Linked DNA regions of Homo sapiens: regions 2 and 3 are each linked to region 1. Evidence: fine-mapped expression QTL. A gene starts in region 1. Each other region holds a variant in brackets. All regions are shown on one strand. Distances are from middle to middle. Region 1 holds the start of CYP4F22 (cytochrome P450 family 4 subfamily F member 22). Region 2 overlaps CYP4F22 (cytochrome P450 family 4 subfamily F member 22). Region 3 overlaps CYP4F22 (cytochrome P450 family 4 subfamily F member 22).

Region 1 (8,180 bases):
CCCACTGAGGACTTGTTATACAAGGTGTGTGGGCTCCCAAGAAGGAGTGGAGGGCACGGACCCAGGCCGACGCCAGGTACGAGATACATGCCTCTTCTTGAACTGCAGGGGCTGGGACCAGCCAGGAGCCTGATGGAAGAGCACCCCAACGCTGGCCCCATCACCCCAAATCCCAGCCCTCCTTTTCACTCCAAGCCTGTAGTCAAGGCAGCCTGCCCCCGTCCCCACTGATTCATGGTGCCACCTTGGCTTCCTCAACATCAGAGGGCTGGCTTACCCCAGAGACTCACATATTCCCCCAAAGTGCCAGACCCCAGAAGGCTGGAGCTGAGAGGGGACTTCTAAGTTGTTTTGTTGTTGTTGTTGTTTGTTTGTTTTGTTTTTTAGACATGGTCTTGCTGTGTCCTTCAGGCTGGAGTGCAGTGGTGTGATCTTGGCTCACTGCAACCTCCCCGTCCTGGGCTTGAGTGATCCTCCCACCTCAGCATCCTGAGTAGCTGGGACTACAGGCGCCTGCCACCATGCTCAGCTAATTTTTTTTTAATTTTTTTGTTAAAAAAAATTAATATAGTGCTGGGCGCGGTGGCTCATGCCTGTAATCATGCCTGTAATCTCAGCACTTTGGGAGGAGGGAGGATCACCTGAGGTCGGGAGTTCGAGACCAGCCTGACCAACATGGAGAAACCCCATCTCTACTAAAAATACAAAATTAGCCAGGCATGGTGGCACATGCCTGTAGTCTCAGCTACTCAGGAGGCTGAGGCAAGAGAACAGCTTGAACCCGGGAGGCAGGGGTTGCAGTGAGCCAAGATCACGCCATTACACTCCAGCCTGGGCAACAAGAGCAAAACTCCATCTCAAAAAAAAAAAAAAAAATATATATATATATATATATATGGTATCCCTATATTCCCCAGGCTGGTCTCAAAGTCCTGGGCTCAAACCATCCTCCAGCCTTAGCCTCCCAAAGTGCTGGGATTACAGGCATGAGCCACCACACTCAGCCTGGCTTCTAGGTCTTCAGTCTCCACTCAGCACTCTAAATTTCTAAGGTTCTGAGAAAGAGCTTCAGAGTCATTTATGACTAATGAGGGCAGGGCCAAGTTGGCAAATGTGGTAAAGGAGACAGTCCTATCGCAGCTTTGATCATATTCAAACCTTTTGCTAATAATTTCCTTGGCCCAAAGGGGATCCTGGCAGAAAAAGAAGTTTTAAAACCACTAATAATCTAGACCATTGCAGGGTTGTAATTGTTTCTGCCCACCATCCCAAGTGTGGCCACACCTGGACATGAGCCTCAGAAAAGATTCTATAAAGGTCTGCCTCTTTGCTGTGCGACCTCGGGTGAGTGTCTGCACCTCTCTGAGCCTCAATTTCTTCATCCATTAAGACAGAAGCCCTATTTACCCACCTCATGGGGCTGCAATCTTCCAGGCACATAGTAAGCCTTTGATCAATGATATCTCTCATTACCGTTGGTGCTGCCATCACGTTCATTATTGTGACCTGGCCATCTGGGGTTTGGAGAATCAGGTCCAAGTTTTATCAACAAGGAGAGATGAGTCAGGCGCAGTGGCTCATGCCTGTAATCCCAGCACTTTGGGAGGCTGAGGCGGGTGGATCACTTGAGCCCAAGAGTTCAAGACCAGCCTGGGCAACATGGTGAAACCCCATCCCTACCAAAAATACAAAAAGTAGACAGGAGTGGTGGTGCATGCCTGTAGTCCTCCATACTCAGGAGGCTGAGGTAGGAGGATTGCTTGAACCCAGGAGATCGAGGCTGCAGTGAGCTATGATTATGCCACTGCACTCCTGCCTGGGTGACAAAGTGAGACCCTGTCTCAACAACAACAACAAAAAAAGAAAGAAAGAAAGAAAGAGAGAGAGACAGAGAAAAGAAAGAAAGAAAGAAAGAAAGAAGGAAGGAAAGAAAGAAAGGAAGGAAGGAAGGAAGGAAGGAAGGAAGGAAGGAAGGAAGGAAGGAAGGAGAGATGGGTCCCATTCCCTGAATGCCTCTCAAGTCATCCAAGCCCCTCTGCAGATACCAACCTGGGTCACCGCCAGACACCAGGCCAGAGTTAATGTTACTGTTCAGAAACCCAAGCTGGGCCATTTGGTGATGCCGGGGACATCGGAAAGTGGACTGAGGCTTTGGGGTCAAACAGGGCTTGTTTTTTCAAATCCCAGCTCTCCCACTGGGCACTGGGTATCCACAGGCACAGGCTTCTTCTCTCTGGCCCTCAGTTTCCGTGCCTGTAAAATGAGGGTGGTAGGGAAGATTTGGGGAGGTTCCTTCTCTTTGGGGTTTGGAGTTACACAAGAAGGAGTTTGATGCTGCCAGCCCTGGCTGGGCACAGCTCCAGGACCTAGAAATAAGGGGTGGAGCAAGGGGCACAGGGTAGGAGGAATTTCGGGTACGCAGCCAGCCCTGGCCATCTCCTTTGCCTACAGGGCGGTGAGACTCACAATGAGTGCATGAATGAGCTGTGAGCGGGCAGATGAACCAGGAGAGATGCCCTGAGCCTAGGCCTCTCCAGCCTGCGACTCCCCAGGTGGCCAGCCTCGGCCAACTTGCATACCCAGGCTGGGCCAGGCCCCTGGGAGGCCAGAAAACATCTTCCTTCCAGCATCTATCAGACGAAGATCACCTGGGACCAACCCCAGGACCTCACACAACCCTCAGAGCCAACTCTCGGGGCCAGAAGAACACCGTCTTTTCATAGAGGGGCTCTGCGTCTGGCATGGATGGGCAGAGGGTTCCTGATAGCAGTTGAACCACAAGCCTAACCCCATCGGTTGAATGTACTACAACCTCCCCGTCAAGACAACGTGCAGTGGTGAAATCTCAGGGCGAATCCCCATTCAGCCCCAAAGAGGCGTCCCAGGGCGGGGCTTGAACCCATCTGGGATGTCCTGACTACCAGAGGGGTCTTTTGGAGGCCCCCTGCCCATCACAGATACCCAGAGAAAAGGATGCGCCTAGGACTCCGAGGCGCACACAGAAAAAAAAAAAAAGAAAACAACTCACAAATGCAGCAAACGTCGGGGACACACCCACGTGCCCCTCTCCCCACGAGTGCCCCGGGCATGCAGCCCCGTCCTGGGTCCTGGGGGGGTCCCCGTGGCCGGCTGCGCCCCGCCCGCCGCCGCGCGCAGACCTTCGCCCTTGCCCCGCCAGCACCGAACCGCGCGAGCCTCGGGTTCCAGCGCAGCGCCGCGGCCGCGCTCAGGTTACAGCCCTCACCACGCGCGCACTCACCCGCGGGTCTCAGCCTCCTGCCCTCGATCCGGATCCACCGGCGCCACTACCTGGGATCTGACCGCGCCGTCCCACGGCCCAACCCTTTAACCCCGCCCGGCCGTGCCGAGGGGTCCGCCCCCGGACATCCCGCCCCGGGCTCCCGCAGGGTTCTGGGCGGGGACTCCAGCGCTGCCCCCTAGAAAAGGAGAGAACAAGAAATAGGCGTGTGGAGGGGTGGAGAGCGATGGAAAGAGAGAGAGACTGAGACTGAGATGGAGAGATGAAGAGAGACAGAGACTTGGACACCTAGAAGTCCCAAACCATCAGGCTCCCCGCCCTCCTGCCACTGCTGGGCCGCATTAGCGCCCAAGTCCCGCTCTGGACCACACTCCTCCCACACCAACACCCCCCATGGCCCTTACTTCCAGGTTTGCTCCCAAGCTTGGACAGCGATCTCTAAACCATCACCCCCTGGGGCCCCACTGACCCCCCCGAGAAGCCTCCTCTGGGGCCCTCAGGAATTCTCTGGCTCCACCAGCCCTTGGGAACCAGCCCTTCCCCTCTCTCTGGATCCTGGGCCTAAGCTTCCCCGGCACCCACCCCTGGAGGCTCTGCAGCCTCTTCCTCCAGGAAGACCTCCAACCTCAACAAGCAGCACCAGACTGGTTCTGCTCCCCGCCAACCCGCCCTCCGCCACTCCTCCCCACCCACTGCCAGACACCTTGACCCTCTGACCAGGATGTTGTCCTTGGCCAACCCGTCTACTCCAGATGTGTGGAGACAGAGTCAGCTCCGCCTCTGGATGTGTCTGTCCTCCGGAGTCGGTGGGTGGATGTGTGGCTGACCTTAGCACGTGGGCAGACAGATGAGAAGACAAGAATCTCCACTTGCCCCAGCAGGTGGTAAACTTAGAAGACTTCCTTATCCCTCTTTTTTCTAAGAATACGCTCTCATTTGGTGCTGGGCCCTTGGAAAGAGGGCGTGGGAGGTGTGGGGCATGTCTCCTGGTGAAGAAGAGGAGACACAAGTAATTGAAGTTTTGCTGCTTGGAGGAGGCAGACATGAGGTCAGGGAAGGCGACGTGGAGGATGTGACACTTGAGCTGGGACTGCATGGAGAGGTTGGATTTCAACAAGTGCAGGAGAGGGGGTAGAGCTCAAGCACAGAGAAACTGGAGGGTGTGACTTAGCAGATGGCTTTCCCTGGCCTTGGAGTGTGAGAGGTGTGGAGGCTGGAGGGATGCAGGAGTTGACTGTGAAGGCCAGTTTGAATGGCTGGATCTTGATCTGGTGGGCAGTGGGGAGCCATGGATGGTGCTTGAGTAGGGGAGGTGCCCCCTGTTAGTTGATTGGTCTCACTCTGTCATCCAGGCTGGGGTGACTCCTGGGCTCAAGCCATCCTCCTGCCTCAGCCTCCTGGGTAGTTGGGACTACAGACACGTGCCACCACACCCAGCTAATTTTTTTTTTTCATTTTTTTAGAGACAGGGTCTCACTATGTTGCCCAGGCTGGTCTCAAACTCCTGGGCTCAAGCCATTCTCCCAGCTCCTAGAACTTTTAAAAAAAAATATTTATATTTATTTGTGTCTTTAATCTTTTTTACTTCTGAGGAAGAGCTTATTTTATTAATTTTTTATTCATAATTAACGCAGCATGAAAGCCTATTTTTTAGGGATATGAATTTTGTTTTGCCAGTAATTCTGGCCAAGGGGGAGCTTACTAGAAGCACTTTGGAAAATGCAGAGATCCACATAGAGTGAAGTTTGAGAGGGACCCCTCCAGTGGCTGCAGGGGACAGAGACAAAGGGTGGGGGTAGCTGAGACCCAGGAAGGGGTTAAGGATGAGGTCCCGGAGGTCATCTCCACTGACCACTGGCTAAATACGGGGTTCTAGGGAAGAGAGAAGGAAAAGAAGCCATCTGCCTGGCTTCTCTGCTCTCAAAGAGCTGGAGACCAGGAAGGAGGAGTAAGTGAAAGGGCCTGGAGCACTAAGAGTGGGCTTCGTGGATGTGTGGCCTTGAGCTAGTCACATGGCTGCTCTGAGCCTCCATCTCCCTATGCATAAAATGCAGAAGAAGCCCATGTGATGAGGTGGTGTTCAGCCCCACTCCTGGCACAGGGCACAGGCTGGACAAACATCAGCTGTTTGAGTTTGCAGTTGATTGGGGCCATCCCAGCAGAGTAGAGTTTTCCGCCAGGGAATGTTTAGCAACATCAGGAGATCATACTGCTGGGTGGGGGGTAGAGGTGGGGGTGGGGGAATTCAGGGTGGTGCAACTGACATCTAGTGGGTGAAGGCCAGAGATATTATTCAACATCCAGAACACCCCCACCCCCAAAGAATAATCCAGGCTCAAATGTTGACAGTGCTAAGATTGGGAAACCGTGGGTCACCTTCAGTCTAAAAGTCTCGTGGGTCTCATGGGATGACATTCAGGGAGACATCCAGGAGGCAGTTGGGCTCAGCGTGAGGGCACCTCCTGAGAATTGCATCTGTGAGTCACCTGCCTTGGGAAGACGGTGGATGGCATGGCAGTAGGTCAGCGAGATCACTCAGGAGGGAGGTGGGCAGAGAAGAGGAGGGGAGGGCAGAAGTGGGGATCACAGCCACTTTTTTTTTTTTTTTAAGATGGAGTCTCACTCTGTTGCTCTGTTGTCCAGGCTGGATACAGTGGCACAATCTTGGCTCACTGTAACCTCCGCCTCCCGGGGTCAAGCGATTCTCCTGCCTCAGCCTCCCGAGTAGCTGAGACTACAGGTGCCCACCACCAAGCCCGGCTAATTTTTGTATTTTTAGTAGAGACGGGGTTTCGCCGTATTGGCCAGGCTGGTCTCAAACTCCTGACCTCAAGTGATCCACCTGCCTTGGCCTCCCAAAGTGCTGGGATTACAGGCATGAGCTGCCGTGCCTGGCCTTTTATTTTATTTTTTAATCAAACAGAGTCTTGCTCTGTCACCCAGGCTAGAGTGCAGTGGTGCTATCTTGGCTGACTGCAACCTCCACCTCCCGGGTTCAAGCAATTCTCCTGCCTCAGCCTCCTGAGTAGCTGGGATTACAGGCTTGCACCACCACGCCCGGCTAATTTTTGTATTTTTAGTAGAGACAGGGTTTTGCCATTTTGGCCAGGCTGGTCTCAAACTCCTGACCTCAGAGATAATAGCTACATTTATAGAGAGGACAGGCAGCAGCACTGAGCTGGAGCTGGAGATGGAGTTTGAGAAGAGTGGTAGTAGGGACCATCACTGGCACCTAGACGTCAAGGAACCCAAGCTCTAGAGCTGTGTGGTTCCCATGCCACCAGAGCCCTCAGCCTGCCACAGCCCAGGGCTCAGTGGGGTGAGGTTGAAGTGGGAGGGGAGGAAGTGGAGGCTGTGGCTGGACTTGGGAAATGGTAGTAGAAAGCTGTCTGGGAGTGGATGTGGCAGGTCATGGCAGGGAGTCAAAGATAAAAAGAAGAGGGATCTCGCCATACCCTGCTGGTGGCAACGTAAAATGGTTCAGCCACAGTGGAAAACAGTTTGGGAATTTCTCAAAAAGCTAATCAGAATTACCATAGGACCCAGATATTCCACTCCTAGGTATACACACACAATAACTGAAAACAAGTACTTGCCAGGTACAGTGGTCTACAGCTGTCATCTCAGCACTTTGGGAGGCTGAGGCAAGAGAGCATCACTTAAGCCCAGGAGTTCCAGACTAGCCTGGGGAACAACATAGCAAGACTTCATTTCTACAAAATATAAAAAATTAGCTGGACATGATGTGCGTACCTATAGTCCCAGCTACTTGGGAGGCTGAGGTGGGAGGATAGACAGCTTGAGACTGGGAGGCTGAGATTGCAGTCAGCTGAGATTGTACCACTTCACGCCAGCCTGGCTACAGAATGAGACCCTGTCTCAAAAAAAAAGAAAAAGAAAGAAAGAAGAGACAGAGAGAGAGAGAGAGAGAGAGAGAGAGAGAGAGAGATAAAGAGAAAGAAAGAGAAAAGAAAACAGTTACTCACACGTAATTGTAGAGGAGTGCTCGGGATAGCACGATTTATTATAGCCAAAGGTGGAAACAACCCAAATTCCACCAACAGATGAATGGATAAACAAACTGTGGTCCATCCATACAATGGAATATTACTCAGTCATAAAAAAGAATAAAGGCCGGGCGAGGTGGCTCTTGCCTGTAATCCCAGCACTTTGGGAGGCCGAGGCAGGTGGATCACCTGAGGTCAGGAGGTTGAGCCAGCCTGGCCAACATGGTGAGACCCTGTCTCTACTAAAAATACAAAAATTATCTGGGCACGGTGGCGGGCACCTGTAATCCCAGCTACTCGGGAGGCTGAGGCAGGAGAATCGCTTGAACCCGGAAGGCAAAGATTGCAGTGAGCCAAGATCGCACCACTGCACTCCAGCCTGGGGGACAGAGTGAGACTCCGTCTGAAAAAAAAAATACAAATAAAAATAAATAAAACCCTGATCCATGCCGCAATGTGGATGAGCCTCATAAACATTGTGCTGAGTGAAAGAAACCAGACACAAAAGGTCACACAGTGCATTATTACATTTATATGAAATATTCAGACTAAGTGAATTCACAGAGACAGAAAGTGGAGTAGTTGTTGCCAGGGGCTGGGGGAGGGGGGATGGAGAGAGAAGCCCATACCCAGGGGGAGTGGTTATAGGACCTCCTTTTGGGGTGACAAAAACACTGGAACTAGATAAAGGTGATAGTTGCACAACATTGTGAATGCACTAAATGTCACTGAATTCTACACTTTAAAGGGTTAATTTTATGTTATGTGAATTTCACCTCAATTTTTTTTTTTTTTTTTTTTTTTTTTTGAGACAGAGTCTCACCTGTTGCCCAGGCTGGAGTGCAGTGGTGCGATCTCAACTCACTGCAAACTCCGGCTCCTGGGTTCAAACAATTCTCGTGCCTCAGCCTCTC
Region 2 (8,180 bases), 26 kb before region 1:
ATGACTATGGGGAAGGAATTATGATGCCCATTTTTTTGATTAAAAAAAAAAGTGAAGCTCAGAGAGATGGTCAGTTTCCCGGAAGCACATGGCCCATCCGTGGCAGAGCTCCCATAGGCCAGAGTTGTCTAATGCCTGGGAGTTCCCTTTCTCCTGCCACCATCTTGCTCCTAGAGCAGCTGGCTCCATCTTCCCAAGAAGGGTCACACTCACTCTTGGCAGTTGCTGTTGTAGCTGAAGACACATTTCTGAAGACTGTCCAGGGTCATGAGGCTGATATGCTCAAACATATCAAGGGAGACCGCTGAGCCCTCTGCCAGATGCCGCCATTTAGCCTGGAAGAGAGATACATGGTGACTGTGCATGGAAACCACAGAGAGGGAGTCAGCCTAACAAGGACCCGACTGCGTTTTCACTACAAGCTCATTTTATAGATAAAGTCAGTGAGGGCTCCTGACATCACATGGCTTGCCCATGCATGAGTTGGAGCCTGGACCAGCCTCACTCCCAAGACACCCTCTTCCCTCAAAGCCTTAGGACTCACATGCATAATGTCAGCGCTCTGGTTGAAGATCTTCATGTAAGGCTTCAGGATGTCAAAGTGGAAGGCGGGTGTCAGCAGGCGACGGTGCCGGCTCCACTTGTCACCTTTGCTGAGCAGCAGCCCATCCCCTGGGCCCAGAAGACTGAGGTTAGGGACCTCTCCTGTTACTCTGAAACCTTCCAAGGAACCCCATGCTCTTCCCTCTCTTCTCTAAAGCCCCAGCCCCAGCCTACCCACTGGGCACTCACCTAGCCAAGGTTTTAGGAAGCCATAGAAGAGGTCATCCTTGGGGGCGATGGCAGCTGTGGAGGGCAAAGGGAAAATGGTGACTCAAAACAGAGTTTTTTGGTTTTTTGTTTTTTTTTACGGAGTCTTGCTCTGTCATCCAGGCTGGAGTGCAGTGGTGCGATCTCCACTCACTGCAACCTCCGCCTCCCAGGTTCAAGCAGTTTTCCTGCCTCTGCCTCCTGAGTAGCTGGGATTACAGGTGTCCGCCACCATGCCCGGCTAATTTGTTTGTATTTTTAGCAGAGACAGAGTTTCACCATGTTGGCCAGGCTGGTCTCGAACTCCTAACCTCAAGTGATCCACCCACCTCAGCCTCCCAAAGTGCTGGGATTACAAGCACGAGCCATCGTGCCTGGCCTCAAAACAGAGTTCCAACCCTTGACCTTTGCTTATGACTTCCTTAGTCCTCCTCACTGGGCTCCAACCTCCCACTGTATTCACCCAGTCCGTCCTCCACACCTACCCGAGAAAAAATCCTTATAAAACACTGATCTGAACATGAGCCTCCCCTGCTCAGACACCTCCCATGGCTCCCCATTGCACTTGTAAAAAGTTCAGGCTCAGCCTGGCATTGAAACCCAATTCCATCTGGCCCCTGTATGCCTCTCCCACCACCTCATCCTTCAACATACACCAGATAACCCTATTCTCATCGCCTGCTGTGGATCACCTCTGAACCTTTGACCAGGTTGAGCTGTCTATCCAGAATGGACTTCTTCACCTGAGTCTTCCCCTAATCCACCCCCTTATTTTCTGCCAGCTCAGGCCATCTGAATCACACCTCCTGTGCTCCCAGCCTCCAGCCTCACCCTCTCCAGTGTGTCCCTCATGAATGGCCCCAGGAGAATCTCATCTGACTATCAGATCTGACCACGCCCCTTCCTGCTCACACACCCATCACCCTCACATACCAGCCCATTTTCAAAGCCCTGAATCATTTGCCTTTGTCCAAATCTCTCTCAAGACACCTCTGTCTTCCACCCCCTATTCGACGTCACAGAACTAACACCACATAACTTTTTGTTTTTTGTTTTTTTGAGATGGGGTCTCACTCTGTCACCCAGGCTGGGGTGTGTGGTGAGATCATAGCTCACTGCTGCCTCCAATTCCTGGATTCAAGCGATCCTCCCACCTCAGCCTCCCGAGTAGCTGGGACTACAGGCATACGCCACCATGCCTGGCTAATTTTTTAATTTTGTGTATGGACAGGGTATCGCCATATTGCCCAGGCTGGTCTTGAACTCCTGAGCTCAAGTGATCCTCCAAGTTCAGCCTCCCAAAGTGCTGGGACTACAGGCATAAGCCACCATGCCCGGCCACACCACAGAACTTTTCTCAGCTCCTTAAAAAGACCACGTGCTCTCTCTTCTCTGAGACTTTCCACCAGCTGTTCTCTCTGCCCCAAACACTCTTCCCTCATCCTGTATGAGAACTTGAATGCTTCTCCCCACCCCTGACCCAGCAGTCACTCTGGATTGTATCCACTTAGTTACAAGCCCCTTAACAGGAGGGTTCGTGTTGATTACTGATATGTTGTGCTAGATAAATTTTTATTAAATGAATAAATAAGTCAATCCAAGGATGGATGAATGAAAGAATAAATGGGTGGATGGATGAGTAGAGGGACAGATGAGTACATGGATGGATAAATAAGTGGATGGATGAATAGCAGATGGATAGATGGTGGGTGGGTGGATGGATGGATGGATGAATGGATGGATGGGTGGATGGTGGATGGATGGATGAGTGGATGGATGGATGAATGAGTGGATAGGTGGAAGGTGGATGGATGAATGAATGAATGAGTGGATGGATGAATGGATGGATCCTCCTTCTATATACTGAACAGATTTGGGGCTGAATGGGCAGAGGCCCAGGAAGGAAGTATCTGAAATTCGAGTGATATCACTTTTACCTGAATGCGACTCAGCCACCTACACCGACACAATCCCTAGGAATTGGCCAATTGCCTACACAATCATCCGCCCACTCATCCCCCCATTCATCACACCTCTTATGCTGCCTTTCTGTGCCCAACCCAAGCTGGGTGATGCTGGGGACCCACAGATGGCTCAGCTCTATGCCCTCCCTGGAGGAGCTCCTGAGTGGGGCAGGAAAGGGAAGCAGAGACACACCATGCAATTACCAAGAAGGTAGAAAGTGTGCTAGGTGCTAAGGAAGGCTCAGAAAAAGGGCTGTTGGAAGTCAGGGCAGGCTTCCTGGAGGAGGCAGCATTGAAGAGGAAAGCAGGAGTCTAGTCACTCCTCTCCTCTCTGCACTCTGGACTCCAAGATAGGCTCCACAGGGATCTTTCTGACACCAGGATCTGGTCAATAGCTGTCTTGTTCAAATACTTCCCGTGGCTCCCTATCACTCCCAGGATAAAGTACAAGTTCATTCACTTTGCTGTCCAGTTCCTGCTTAACTGTCAGTCTCATTTCCTATTCCCCCCAACATATCACCTTCACTCCAGCCACCCTAAATCACCTGAATTCCCCTGGAATTTTCACACATCTGCATCAAGGCACTGGCAGGACCTTCCATCTGGGACTCCTTCTCTGGCAAGCTCCTAGGCATCCTTCGGGGCCCAGCTTCACTGACACCTACTCCAGGAAGCCTTCTCCAAACCCCCTTCTCAGCTGAACCATTGTTCTCTCATCCTCAGGTTCCTTTTCCACTCCAACTCTGACCACAATGCCAGGAAAGTCTGTGTCCACGCTCCTCACCAGTTTTCCCCTCCAGCAAAAAGGAGATGGTAGGCCAGGTGCAATGATTCACACCTGCAGTCCTAGCACTTTGGGAGGCAGAGGCAGGAGGATCACTTGAGCCCAGAAGTTCAAGACCAGCCTGGGCAACACAGCAAGACTCTGTCTCTACAAAAATGTTTTTTAAAAAGAAAAAAAAAAAGAGGGAGAGATGGTAATGCCTACCATGGATGAGACGGTGTACGAAATACCCCCACATGGTGCCAGCATGGAGAAACTCATGCTCAGAAAGCTGCATATCACTATGTTTGAGAGCTTGGGTTCTGGGCCAGCCAGGTCTGAGTTCAAATCCCAGCCCTGCCACTAACTAGATATGTAAGCCTGGACATGTTACCACTGCCAAAGGAGAAAATAGAACAATCTTGCCTCATGGCATCCCTATAAGACTCAACAAGCTCTTGTGTTCCTGGCACATGGTAGATGCTCATTAAATACGTGCGTAGGTAAATGAATAATTGACCAACTGTTGGCTATTTTTATTACTATGGTTAAAATGATTATTTATTGGCATCAAGAACTTGTGAGATAAATAGTTGTGTTTCCTGTTAGTAGAAAATTAATGCACACCCTCTGTGGAAAACAGCAAGGTGGCTCCTTAAAAAGTTAAGTACAGAATTCCATATGACTTGGCAATTCTACTCCTAGGTATCTACCCAAGAGAGAAATGAAAACATATGTCCACCCCAAAACTTGAACACATATGTTCATAGTAGCATGATTCACAACATCCAAAAGGTGAATGGGTAAACAAAAAAAAATCCATACAGTGAAATGAATTCAGCCCTAATGACCAACCTGGACAACATAGCAAGACCCCATCTCTACAAAAATAAAAATAAAAATTAGCTGGGCATGGTGGTGCGTGCCTGCAGTTCCAGCTACTCGGGAGGCTGAGGCAGGAGGAGAATCACTCGAGCCCAGGATTTCAAGGCTGTAATGAGTTATGGCTACACCACTGCACTCCAGCCTCTGGGTGACAGGGTAAGACCCTGTCTCAAAAAAAAAAAAAAAAAAAAAAGAATGAAACTGATTCCTACTACAACGTGAATGAACTTCAAAAACATTATGCTGAGTAAAAGAAAACAGACACAAAAAGATCACATTTTATGTGGTTCTCTTTCTATGATGTACCCAGAATAGGCAAATACATAGAGACAGAAAGCAGATT[C/T]GAGGTTACCAGCGGATGGGAGGAGGAGGGAAATGGGAAGTGATTACTCAATGGGTACAGAGTTTTTTTATGAGGTGACTAAAAATTTTGAAACTGGAAAATGCTGGTGGTTGCCCAACATGGTGAATACACTAAATACCACTGATTGTTCACTTGTAAATGGTTAATTATATGTTACATGAATTTCACCTCCATTTTAAAAAGATGATATAAAAGCAAGCTACAATTATATGTCTATATATCATCATGTTCTCTATAAAGCATGTTTATCTACTTTCTCTCATTAAAATTTCCTAGTCCAAAGGCCCATAAGATGATGGGGAAACTGAAGCTCCAACAGGAGCTGGGCCCTCCTCCAGGCTCAAGGGCTGTGCAGCTCCAAGCTCAGAACAGCAAGCCACTCCCAGGTGTGGCCCCAGGAGGTCCTGATCCAGGGTGGTGTCTGTGACTGGAGCCTGATCTGTGTAATTCCAGGTGGGGGCACCCTGGGGCCAAGAGGCCTCACTCCAGGCTGACTCACAGCACCACCCTTTTTTCCATCCTGGAGTTCCCTATCTGGCTTCTCTGATGGGGTACACAGAATATCCCCTCCCTCCACTGGATGAGGGGAGGGCAAGAGGCTTAAGCATCTACTACATGACAGCCCCTGCTGGGGCACTACTCCTCGGTCTGTTTGGAGTCTCAGAACCAGGCAGGATGGTGCTCAGGAAACTGATGCTCTGAGGGGGAGGAGAAGGGAGGAGGAAGGAGAAAAAAGAGAGACCAGGCGCTGTAGCTCACGCCTGTAATCCCAGCACTTTGAGAGGCCAAGGCAGGAGAATCACTTAAGGTCAGGAGTTCAAGACCAGCCTGGCCAATATGGTGCAGCCCCGTCTCTACTGAAAAAAAAAAATACAAAAATTAGCCAGGTGTGGTGGTGCACACTTGTAGTCTCAGCTACTCGGGAGGCTGAGACAGGAGAATCACTTGAACTCGGGAGGCAGAGGTTGCAGTGAGCTGAGATCATGCCACTGCACTCCAGCCTGGGTGACAGAGTGAGACTCTGTCTAAAAAGAAGAGGAAGAAAAAGAAGAAGGTGGAGGAGGAGGAGGGGGATGGGGAGGAGAAGAAGGAGAAGGAGGAGAAGGAGAAGAAGAAAGAAGTAGAAGGAGGAGGAGAGAAAGAAGAAGAGAAGGGAGGAGGGGGAAAGAGGAGTAGAGAGAGAAGTAGAAGGAGGAGGAGAAGAGGGAGGAAGAAGAAAGGAAAGGAGGAAAAGAGAAAGAAAAACATATATTAAAAAGGCAGAAGAGAAACCCTTACTAATGCCTATCCATATTATTTTTTTTTTAATTTTTTTAGAGACAGAATCTCACTCTGTTGCCCATGCTGGATGCAATGGCACAATCATAGCTCTCTGCAGCCTCAACCTCTTGGACTCAAGCAATCCTCCTACCTCAGCCTCCTAAGTAGCTGGGACTATAGGCACGCACCACCACACCTGGCTAATTTTTTAAATTTTTTGTAAAGATAGAGTCTTGCTCTGTTGCCCAGGCTGGTCTTGAACTCCTGGGCTCAAGTGATCCTCCTGCCGTGGCCTCCCAAAGTGCTGAGACTGCAGGCATGAGTCACTGCACGTGGCCTCTTATCCACATTATATTATTCAGGCTTCACAACTGCACCCATTTTACAGATCAAAACCTGAGATCCAGAGAGGCTAGATAAATGGCTGGGGTCTCACAGCAAGCATGTGCCAAGGCCAGAATTTGAAGCCAACCCACCTCAGTCCTGGCCCAGGGCTCTTCCCACAAGTTGGTATTCATCCCTCAGAAGAGTCAATTCTCCCTCCCAAGGTCTAGGTTTTCCCCTTAGTTCAACAGGGATCGTCATCCCTTCACAAATGTAATAACGGGAGACAACAAGGCATTGAGAGGGAATAGCTGTGGAAGGGGAAGATGGCAGCTTCTTTCACAGCTCCTGGGTGGCAGCCCTGGAGATGGTCCCCAGATGCGTGTTTGTAGAGGCAAAGCTGGGACAGAGATCCTAAAATTCCTGGAATCTCCCACTTTTTTTTTTTTTTTAAGAGACTAAGCCTTGCTCTGTCACCCAGGCTGGAGTACAGCAGTGGTGCAATCATAGCTCACTGCAGCCTCCATCTGCTGGGCTCAAGCAATCCTCTCACCTCAGCCTCCTGAGTAGCTGGGACTGCAGGCATGCACCACAACACCCAGCTAATATTTTTAAATGCTTTTGTACAGATGGGGTCTTGCTAGATTACCCAGGCTGGTCTTAAACTCCTGAGCTCAAGTGATCCTCCCATCTCAGCCACCCAAGTAGCCGAGACTACAGGTGCACATCACTGCCACTGGGTAATTATTTATTTTTTTCGAGAGACAGGGTCTTGCTGTGTTGCCCAGGCTAGTCTCAAACTCCTGGCCTCAAGCAACCCTCCTGCCTCAGCTTCCCAAAGTGTTGGGATTACAGATGTGAACCACCATGCCTGACCTACTGGAGCTCATTGGTTCATTTGAGAGTGAGTTCTCTCAGATGTCCCGATACCTCTGGAGGTGCCCAGGTAATATGGTTTGGCTGTGTCCCATCTAAATTTCATTTTGAATTATAATTCCGATAATCCCTATGTGTCATGCGAGGGATCCGGTGGGGGGTAATTGAATCATGGGGGCGGTTACCCCCATGTTGCTGTTCCCATGATAGTGAATGAGTTCTCACGAGATTTAACGAATTTCCCCCTTTTACTTGGCACTTCTCCTTCCTGCTGCCATGTGAAGAAGGACGTGTTTGCTTCCCCTTCCGCCATGATTGTAAGTTTTCTGAGGCCTCCCCAGCCCTGCGGAACTGTGAGTCAATTAAACCTCTTTCCTTTATAAATTACCCAGTCTAGGGTAGTCCTTCATAGCAGCGTGAGAACTGACTAATACACCAGGTACACAAGGCCACACTGAGGATCCAGAGTCCCGCTCATGAGGAAGATAGAGCTGGACACAGACATACCCAGGTCCAAAGGGTTAGGACTGAGAATAGGTCTGTCTGGGAAGCCAGGGAAAGATTCCTGGAGGAGGCGGCCATTGGAGCTGGGTGTTGAAGGCTGAGCAAGAGCTTGCCAAGCAGACTTGGAAGTCTCACATCTTGGGATAGGTGTGGACTGCACGAGGAAGAAGGAATTCTTCCACATCTCCCTCCCTGCCAGTCAGAGTCAGCCCAAGTGATGACAGCAGGCTGCAGGCTGAGTCACCAAGAGTCCTGGCCATAATGGGAATGTCAGAACCAAATGATGGGCGTGCCACGGCCAGGGATTGAGTAACACTTACTTAACAAAACCATAAGGAACAACTGCCTATCCAAACGTGCCTGGCTCTGACTGCCAGATGGATGGACATTCCCTCGAAGTTTCTGGAACTCTTAGTCATTGCCACATCTT
Region 3 (8,180 bases), 36 kb before region 1:
TGGTAGGCACCTTTGGGGATGATGCGCCCATCTGGGAGCTTGATGTCCTCCGTGCATTGGCGAGAGACAAGAGTGACAGGTGGGTACTGGCGCAGGCTCTCCTTAATGCACATAGTTGTAAAGGGCAGCTGAGTCAGATCGTCCCTGGGGAGAATGGAGATATAACTAGAGGCCGAGCCACCATGGCACCACCTCCCCAAAACACACACACACACACACACACACACACACACACACACACACACACACTCTCTCCCTCTCTCTCTCTCTCTCTCTCTCTCTCAGGGGCAGCTGGGCAAGAAACCAGTCCAGGATTTTAGACTTGCCCCAATTTCTGCCATTTGCAGTTGTCTCATGCACAGGTGGGAAGTACTAATATTTAGTGGTTTTTTTGTTTTTTCTTTTCCTTTTTCTTTCTTTTTTTTTTTTAAGACCGAGTTTCGCTCTTGTTGCCCAGGCTAGAACATAGTGGCGCATCTCGGGTCACTGCAACCTCAGCCTTGCAGGTTCAAGCAATTTTCTTGCCTCAGCCTCCCAAGTAGCTGGGATTACAGGCATGCGCACCCACACCCGGCTAATTTTTGTATTTTTAGTAGAGACAGGGTTTCTCCATGTTGGCCAGGCTGGTCTCAAACGCCTGACCTCAGGCAATCCACCCACCTCGGCCTCCCAAAGTGCTGGGATTACAAACGTGAGCCACAGTGCCCGGCCAGTACTAATACTTAGGATGCAAAGTATCTGAGCACCAACCGCTCAGAACAGCACTAGCACTGGGCCCTCTGCTGGGCCCAGCATTAAGCCTTTAATTGATGAATTATGTGGAGGTCCAGGGGCACCTAGGCGAGGTGCCAGGACAGCCAAGGGGACTCACGGCAACAGCAATATGCCAGTTTATATGGTCCATTTCTGTACTTAAAAAACTGCTGCAGGACAGGTGTGGTGGCTCTCGCCTGTAATCCCAGCACTTGCAGAGGCTGAGATGGGCGATCGTCTGAGGTCAGGAGTTCAAGATCAGTCTGGCCAACATAGCAAAACCCCATCTTTACTAAAAAACACAAAAATTAGCTGGGTGTGGTGGCGTGCACCTGTAGTCTCAGCTACTTGGGAGGCCGAGGCAAGAGAATTGCTTGAACCCGGAAGGCGGAGGTTGCAGTGAGATGAGATTGCACCACTACACTCTAGCCTGGGTGACAGAGTGAGACTCTTGTCTTAAAAAAAAAAAAAAAAAAAAAACTGGTGCAGGCCAGGCATGGTGGCTCATACCTGTAATCCCAGCACTTTGGGAGGCCGAAGCAAGTGGATAACTTGAGCCCAGGAGTTCGTGACCAGCCTGGGCAACAAAGAGAGACCCCATCTCTACCAAAAGTTAAAAAATTAGCTGGGCATGATGGCACACACCTGTGGTCCCAGCTACTCAGGAGGCTGTAGTGAGCTATGATCATGCCACTGTACTCCAGCCTGGGCCACAGTGTGAGAGCCTATCTCAAAAAAAGAAAGAAAGAAAAAAAGAAAAAAGAAAGAAAAGAAAAGTGCATTATCTCCTTATAATATCATTTACTTAATATTTTTTCCCTTGGACTTTAGGGCCCAAAATTGGGCTAATGATAACTCTTGGTTCATGTTCTAGATTAGATTAGTTTCTTTAAATTAGCAGGTTCTCTTTCTTTTTTGATGGCGTCTTGCTGTTTCATCCAGGCAGGAGTGCAGTGGCACAATCTCAGCTCACTGCAACCTCTGCTTCCCAGGTTCAAGCAATTCTCACGCCTCAGCTTCTCAAGCAGCTGGGATTACAGGCACACACCAATACGCCCAGCTAATTTTTGTATTTTTAGTAGAGACAGGGTTTCACCATGTTGCCCAGGTTGGTCTTGAATTTCTGGCCTCAAGTGATCCACCCGCCTTAGCCTCCCAAAGTGCTGGGATTACAGGCATGAGCCACTGCACCTGGCCCAGGTTCTCTTTCAAAGAAACTTTATGGCTGGGCACAGTGGCTCACACCTATAATCCCAGCACTTTGGGAGGCCAAAGTAAGAGGACTGCTTGCACTCAGGGATTTGAGAGCAGCCTGGGCAACACAGCAAGTCCCCATCTCTTAAAAAAATGTTAAAAATTAGCCAGTTGTGGTGGCACACTCCTATAGTCCCACCTACTCAGGAGGCTGAGGCAGGAAGATTGCCTGAGCCCAGGAGTTTGAGGCTGCAGTGAGCTATGATTATGCCACTGCACTCCAGCCTGTGTCTTAAAAAAAAATAAACTTCATGTTGCTATAAAGGGCAAACAGCATCCCTGGCATAAAGGTATTCATCCATACAAACACCACTGTGAAAGCAGTAGTGTGTTATTAAATTGTGTCTACACACCAACTCCCACCCAACTCTCTCAACCTGAGACATCTTCTCCACTTGTTTAAAAGGAAGATTAGCAAAGTGTTCAGGACACAGTAGCACCCCACTGAGCATGTCCCCCTGAGGCCATAAGGCAAAAGGTTGAAATAGAACCGAAAGGAACCTCCTCACTGTGTGAGTTGATGCTATTTAATGTTGCGGCTGTGTTTTTCTTCTTTTCTTTTCTTTTCTTTTCTTTTTTTTTTTTTTTTTTTTTTTGAGACAGGGTCTCACTCTGTCACCCAGGCTGGAGTGCAGTGGCGTAATCTTGACTCACCACAGCCTCCACCTCCTGGGTTCAAGCAGTCCTCCCACCTCAGCCTCCCAAGTAGCTGGGACTATAGGCATGCGCCACCCCACCCAGCTAATTTTTGTATTTTTTTGTAGAGACAGGGTTTCGTCATGTTGCCCAGGCTGGTCTCAAACACCTCAGCTCAAGCAATCCACCCCCCTCGGCCTCCCAAAGTGCTGGAATTACAGGCATGAGCCACCACGCCCAGCCTAATGCTGTGTTTTCTTTTCATCACCCAGAATCAGCTCTACATAGCATGAATCTGGTAGAGACTGGGTATGTGTTCTGATTCTCCACTTCCTCCCTGAATTAGAATTATATACCTGTACCCTTTGTCATATGATTCTTCAGTGCCTTCTGCTCAGGTGAGTGGAGTATATGTCCTGCCCCATTCATGCTGGGCTTGGTCACGTGACTTGTTTTAGCCAATGCAATCTTCTAGTGCAAGCACAGCTTTTGTTTTTTTTTTTTATTTTATTTATTTACTTATTTTATCTTTTTTTGTGGGGGGGTGGGGACAGAGTTTCACTCTTGTAGCCCAGGCTGGAGTGCAGTGGTGCAATCTCAGCTCACTGCAAACTCCACCTCCCAGGTTCAAGTGATTCTCCTGTCTCAGCCTCCCGAGTAGGGGGGATTACAGGCACCCATGACCGTACCTGGCTAATTTTTGTATTTTTAGTAGAGATGGGGTTTCACCATGTTGGCCAGGTTGATCTCGAACTCCTGATCTCAGGTGATCCACCCACCTCGGCCTCCCAAAATGCTGGGATTACAGGCGTGAGCCACCCCACCCGGCCCAAGCAAAGCTTTTAAATTTCATGGCTTTTTGTGCTTCTGGAATCTGCCTTGAGAAGAATACGACCCAGGGTAGCCTCTGGTCCAAAGAGAACAGAAAGGGAGTATATGAAGCAGATCTGAACCCAGCTCTTAGTTTTGAAGCAACTCCACTCCACTCAGCCAAGTCCAACAGCAATTAGAGTAATGAGCAGACAAGAGCAAGAAATGTGTGCATACAAAAGCAAGAAACAAATGCTTGCTGTAAACCACTAAGTTTGGGAGCTGTTCATTATGCAGCATCATTGCAATAATTGCTGACTAGGACACTTTGAGAACTTCTGCATTATGAGGTGGGCATAGGCACTATAACCACCCCCATTTTGTAGCTGAAGAAATTGCAATTCAGGAAGCTAAAGTGGCTTGTCTGAGGTCACACAATCAGTAAGTGGGAGAGCAGAGGCTTACACCCAAGGCTCTGGCCTCAACCTGCCCCCTCCATTCCCCTGACCCCACACTCACCACTCCAGCTCCTCCAGCTCCCGGCCTTTCATGACTTCCTGAATCTCTTCTCGGCATTTCTCCTGGTATTCCGGATACTTTGCCAAATTGAACAGCATCCAAGAGATCCCACTGGATGTTGTGTCGTGACCTGCAGGGAGATGAGGGTATCTGAATGGAGGCTGCCTGAAGAAAGCAGAGATGCTGTCTACAGACAATGATGTCCCTTCCTGCCCTCCTCCAGCCTCACCCCACATCCTCACCCTCAAACATGAAGGTGTCTGCTTCGGCTCGGATATCCTCGTCTGACAGTTCCTTTCCATCTTCATCCTGGAATGGGCAGTAGAGGGTGCTCAGCCCACTTCATCCCACCCTCCGCATCCTAGGGGCTCCTCAAAACTCAGATATCTCCCCGCCCCCATCTTTTTTTTTTTTTTTTTTTCTGAGATGGAGTCTCGCTCTATCACCCAGGCTGGAGTGCGGTGGCACAATCTCGGCTAACTGCAGCCTCCGACTGTCAGGTTCAAGTGATTCTCGTGCCTCAGCCTCCTGAATAGCTGGGATTACAGGCACATGCCACCACTCCAAGCTAATTTTTGTATTTTTAGTAGAGATGCAATTTTGCCATATTGGCCAGGCCGGTCTCGAACTCGTGGCCTCAAGTGATCTACCTGCCTCATCCTCCCAAAGTGCTGGGATTACAGACATGAGCTACCACGCCTGGCTCCCCTCTCTCTCTTAAGCCAAGCTGTGGGGGGAACTAGTCCAGGAAGATGGAAGTATGCAACTTGTCTAATAAAGATGGAAAGTGCCCAGCATGGTGGCTCACACCTATAATCCCAACACTTTGGGCAGCTAAGGTGGGAGGATCACTTGAGCCTAGGCGTTCAAGACCAGCCTGGGCAACATGGTAAGACCCCATTTCTACAAAAAAAAAATCAGCCAGGTGTGGTGATGCATGCCTGTAGTCCCAGCTACTGGTGAAGCTGAGGCAGGAGGATTAAGCCCAGGAGATCAAGGCTGCAGTGAACCATGACCGCATCACTGCACCCCAGCCTGTGT[G/A]ACAGAGCAAGACCCTGAGTGAGAGATGCTGGTGAGGCTGTGGAGAAATAGGAACGCTTTTACAAGGTTGATGGGAACGTAAATTAGTTCAACCATTGTGGAAGACAATGTGGCAATTCCTCAAAGACCTAGAACCAGAAATACCACTTGACCCAGCAATCCCATTACCGGGTATACAACCAAAGGAATATAAATTATTCTATTATAAAGATACACGCACACATATGTTCATTGCAGCACTATTGACAATAACAAAGACATGGAATCAACCCAAATGCCCATCAATGAAAGACTGGATAAAGAAAATGTGGTACATATATACCATGCAATATTATGCAGCCATAAAAAGGAACAAGATTATGTCCTTTGCAGGGACCTGAATGGAGCTGGAAGCCATCATCCTTAGCAACCTAAGGCAGGAACAGAAAACCAAACACCACATGTTCCCACTTATAAGTGGGAGCTGAACAATGAAAACACACGGACACAGGGGGGAAACAACACACACTTGGGGGGCCTATCAGGGTGGCAGGAGGAGGGAGAATATCAGGATAAATAGCAAATGCATGCAGGGCTTAATACCTAGGTGATGAGTTGATAGGTGCAGTAAACCACCATGGCACATGTTTACCTACGTAACAAACCTGCACGCCCTACACACGTATCCTTGAACTTTCCATTTAATTTAAAAAAAAATTTTTTGAGATGGAGTTTCTCTCTTGTTGCCAGATTGGAGTGCAGTGGCGCAATCTTGGCTCACTACAACCTCTGCCTCCAGGGTTCAAGCGATTCTCCTGCCTCAGCCTCCAGAGGAGCTGGGATTACAGATGCATGCCACCACGCCCGGCTAATATTTTTTTTTTATTTTTAGTAGAGACGGTGTTTCAATATGTTGGCCAGGCTCGTCTTGAACTCCTGACCTCAGGTGATCCTCCCACCTCAGCTTCCCAAAGTGCTGGGATTACAGGGGTGAGCCACTGCGCCCGGCTTATCCTGGAACTTTAAATTACATTTTTAAAAAACAAGAAAAAAGAAAAGAAAGATGTAAAGAGGGACAGAAAGTCAACAGTGAGGAGAAGAAGGAAGTTCATATTTCTTGAGCAGCCTCCAACACCAAGCATCCCACTGGATGCCTGACAACCTTGTGATCAGGTTTTATGATCACCATGGTATAAATGGAGAAACTGAGGCTTGGGAAGAAGAGTCAATGACTAAGGTCAAACATCCACTAAGCGACAGAGCCAGGACTGGAATCCAGGACTATTTGAATCCAGAACCCAAAAGGTCCACAGACACACCAATGAGTGACCATAGAAGTGTCTCATCTCTTCAAGGTCATGTATTTCTTTTTTTTCTTTTTTTTTTTTTTTTTTGAGACGGAGTTTCACTTGAGTGCAATGGCATGATCTCAGCTCACCGCAACCTCCGCCTCCCAGGTTCAAGTGATTCTTTTGCCTCAACCTCCCGAGTAGCTGGGATTACAGGTGTGTGCCACCACGCCCGGCTAATTTTGTATTTTTAGTAGAGATGGGGTTTCTCCATGTTGGTCAGGCTGGTCTCGAATTCCTGACCTCAAGTGATCCACCTGCCTTGGCCTCCCAGAGTGCTGGGATTACAGGTATGAGCCACCACGCCCAGCCCAAGGTCATGTATTTCATTTTTGCAATTGTGATGAGCTGAATGGTTCCCTGCCCACCCCCCCTCCGCTAGAATTCATAAGTCCTAACTTCCAGTACCTCAGGCTATGACCGTGTTTGGAGAGAGGTCTTTGCAGAAGTAATCAAGACAAAATGAACTCATTAGGGCAGGGCCCTAATCCTTATACAAAGAGACGAAGACAGAGACAGGCACAGAGGGAAGATGATCCGCAGACATAGGGAGAAGACAGCCTTCTGCAAGCCAGGGAGCAAGGCCTGGAACAGATTCATCCTTCATGGGCCTTAGAAGAAACCAGCCCTGCAGATACCTTGATCTTGGACTTCTAGCTTCCAGAACTGTGAGAGAATAAATGGCTGATGTTTAGGCCATTTAGTTTGTGGTACTTTGTAATAGCAGCCCAAGAAAACTCACGCAGTAAGTCTTACATGTTCTGACCCCATCCCAGACCCATGTGAATTTCTTTTTGTTTTGAGCATGTGTATTGTTTTGTTTTGTTTTGAGACAGAGTCTCGCTTCTGTTGCCCAGGCTGGAGTGCAGTGGCACCATCATAGCTCACTGCAGCTTCCAACTCCTGGGCTCAAGCCAGACTCCTGCTTCAGCCTCCCAAGTAGCTGGGACCATAGGCATGCGGCACCACACCCAACTTATTTGTTTTTTGTAGAGACAGGGTCTCCCTGTGTTGCCCAGGCTGATCTCCAATTCCAGGGCTCAAGCGATCCTCCCGCCTTGGCCTCCCAAAGCGCTGGGATTACACGTGTGAGCCACCACGCCTAATGGAGTTTTAACACTTATCATTTTACATGCAATTCCTCGGGAGGCCAGCCCTCGGGAGGCCAGCAATTCCAGGGGGCCCAGCCTCACCCTGGCCAGGAGCAGCACATCAATAAAGTCCAAGGTCTTCCCCTGCTTGGCCTTAAGCCAGGCCTCGGCCCCCTGCTGACGCAGTGCCCGCCGCCGTTCCTGGATGACTTCAGTGGTGAAGTGGTGCACCATGTCACAGGCCTGCCGGAACCTCCGCCCATCCGCCGAGCGGTAGTAAATGAAGTCGAGGTAGTGGTGCAAGCGATACTGGCGCCGGACAGACAGAGCGCTCAGTTCAATGATAGCGGAGATATAATCACTCATCTTCCTGCCAAGGAGAAGGGGATCCATGAGTGTAGCCCCTTCCCCTAGCATAGCACAGCCCTGGCTTGGCTAAGATAAGCCTCCTGTCCCCATTGAATAGATAACAAAGAGAAGCCCTATATTAACTCTATTTTTAAATTCATTTATTTATTTTTTTAGATAGGGTCTTGCTCTGTCACCTAGGCTGCAGTACAGTGGCACAATCATAGCTCACTGCAGCCTTGAACTCGTGAGCTCAAGTGATCCTCCAGCCTTGGCCTCCCAAAGTGCTGGGTTACAGGTCTGAGCCACCACACCCAGTCTCGGGTATATTTTTGAACAGGCCCAAAGAGGGATAAAGACTTTCAACATAGGCATAGTCATTGTAGCATCACTAAAACTA

Evidence for each region.
Region 2: its variant is fine-mapped to the expression of CYP4F22 in whole blood (TOPMed, PIP above 0.99).
Region 3: its variant is fine-mapped to the expression of CYP4F22 in whole blood (TOPMed, PIP above 0.99).

The regions. Positions count from the first base shown.
Region 1 is chr19:15,503,663-15,511,842 of GRCh38, reverse strand. CYP4F22 (cytochrome P450 family 4 subfamily F member 22) reads right to left here and starts at 3,318. Exons shown (of 14, transcript NM_173483.4): 1 at 3,260-3,318. RefSeq lists an enhancer at 3,174-3,674.
Region 2 is chr19:15,530,027-15,538,206 of GRCh38, reverse strand. CYP4F22 (cytochrome P450 family 4 subfamily F member 22) reads right to left here. Exons shown (of 14, transcript NM_173483.4): 5 at 793-846; 6 at 545-672; 7 at 214-335. Among named protein-coding and RNA genes, the nearest start is that of CYP4F22, 26 kb to the right of the region's middle. The variant C/T (reference allele first, on the strand shown) is at 4,766.
Region 3 is chr19:15,540,072-15,548,251 of GRCh38, reverse strand. It overlaps CYP4F22 (cytochrome P450 family 4 subfamily F member 22), which reads right to left. Exons shown (of 14, transcript NM_173483.4): 8 at 7,535-7,802; 9 at 4,215-4,281; 10 at 3,973-4,102; 11 at 11-144. Among named protein-coding and RNA genes, the nearest start is that of CYP4F22, 36 kb to the right of the region's middle. The variant G/A (reference allele first, on the strand shown) is at 5,014.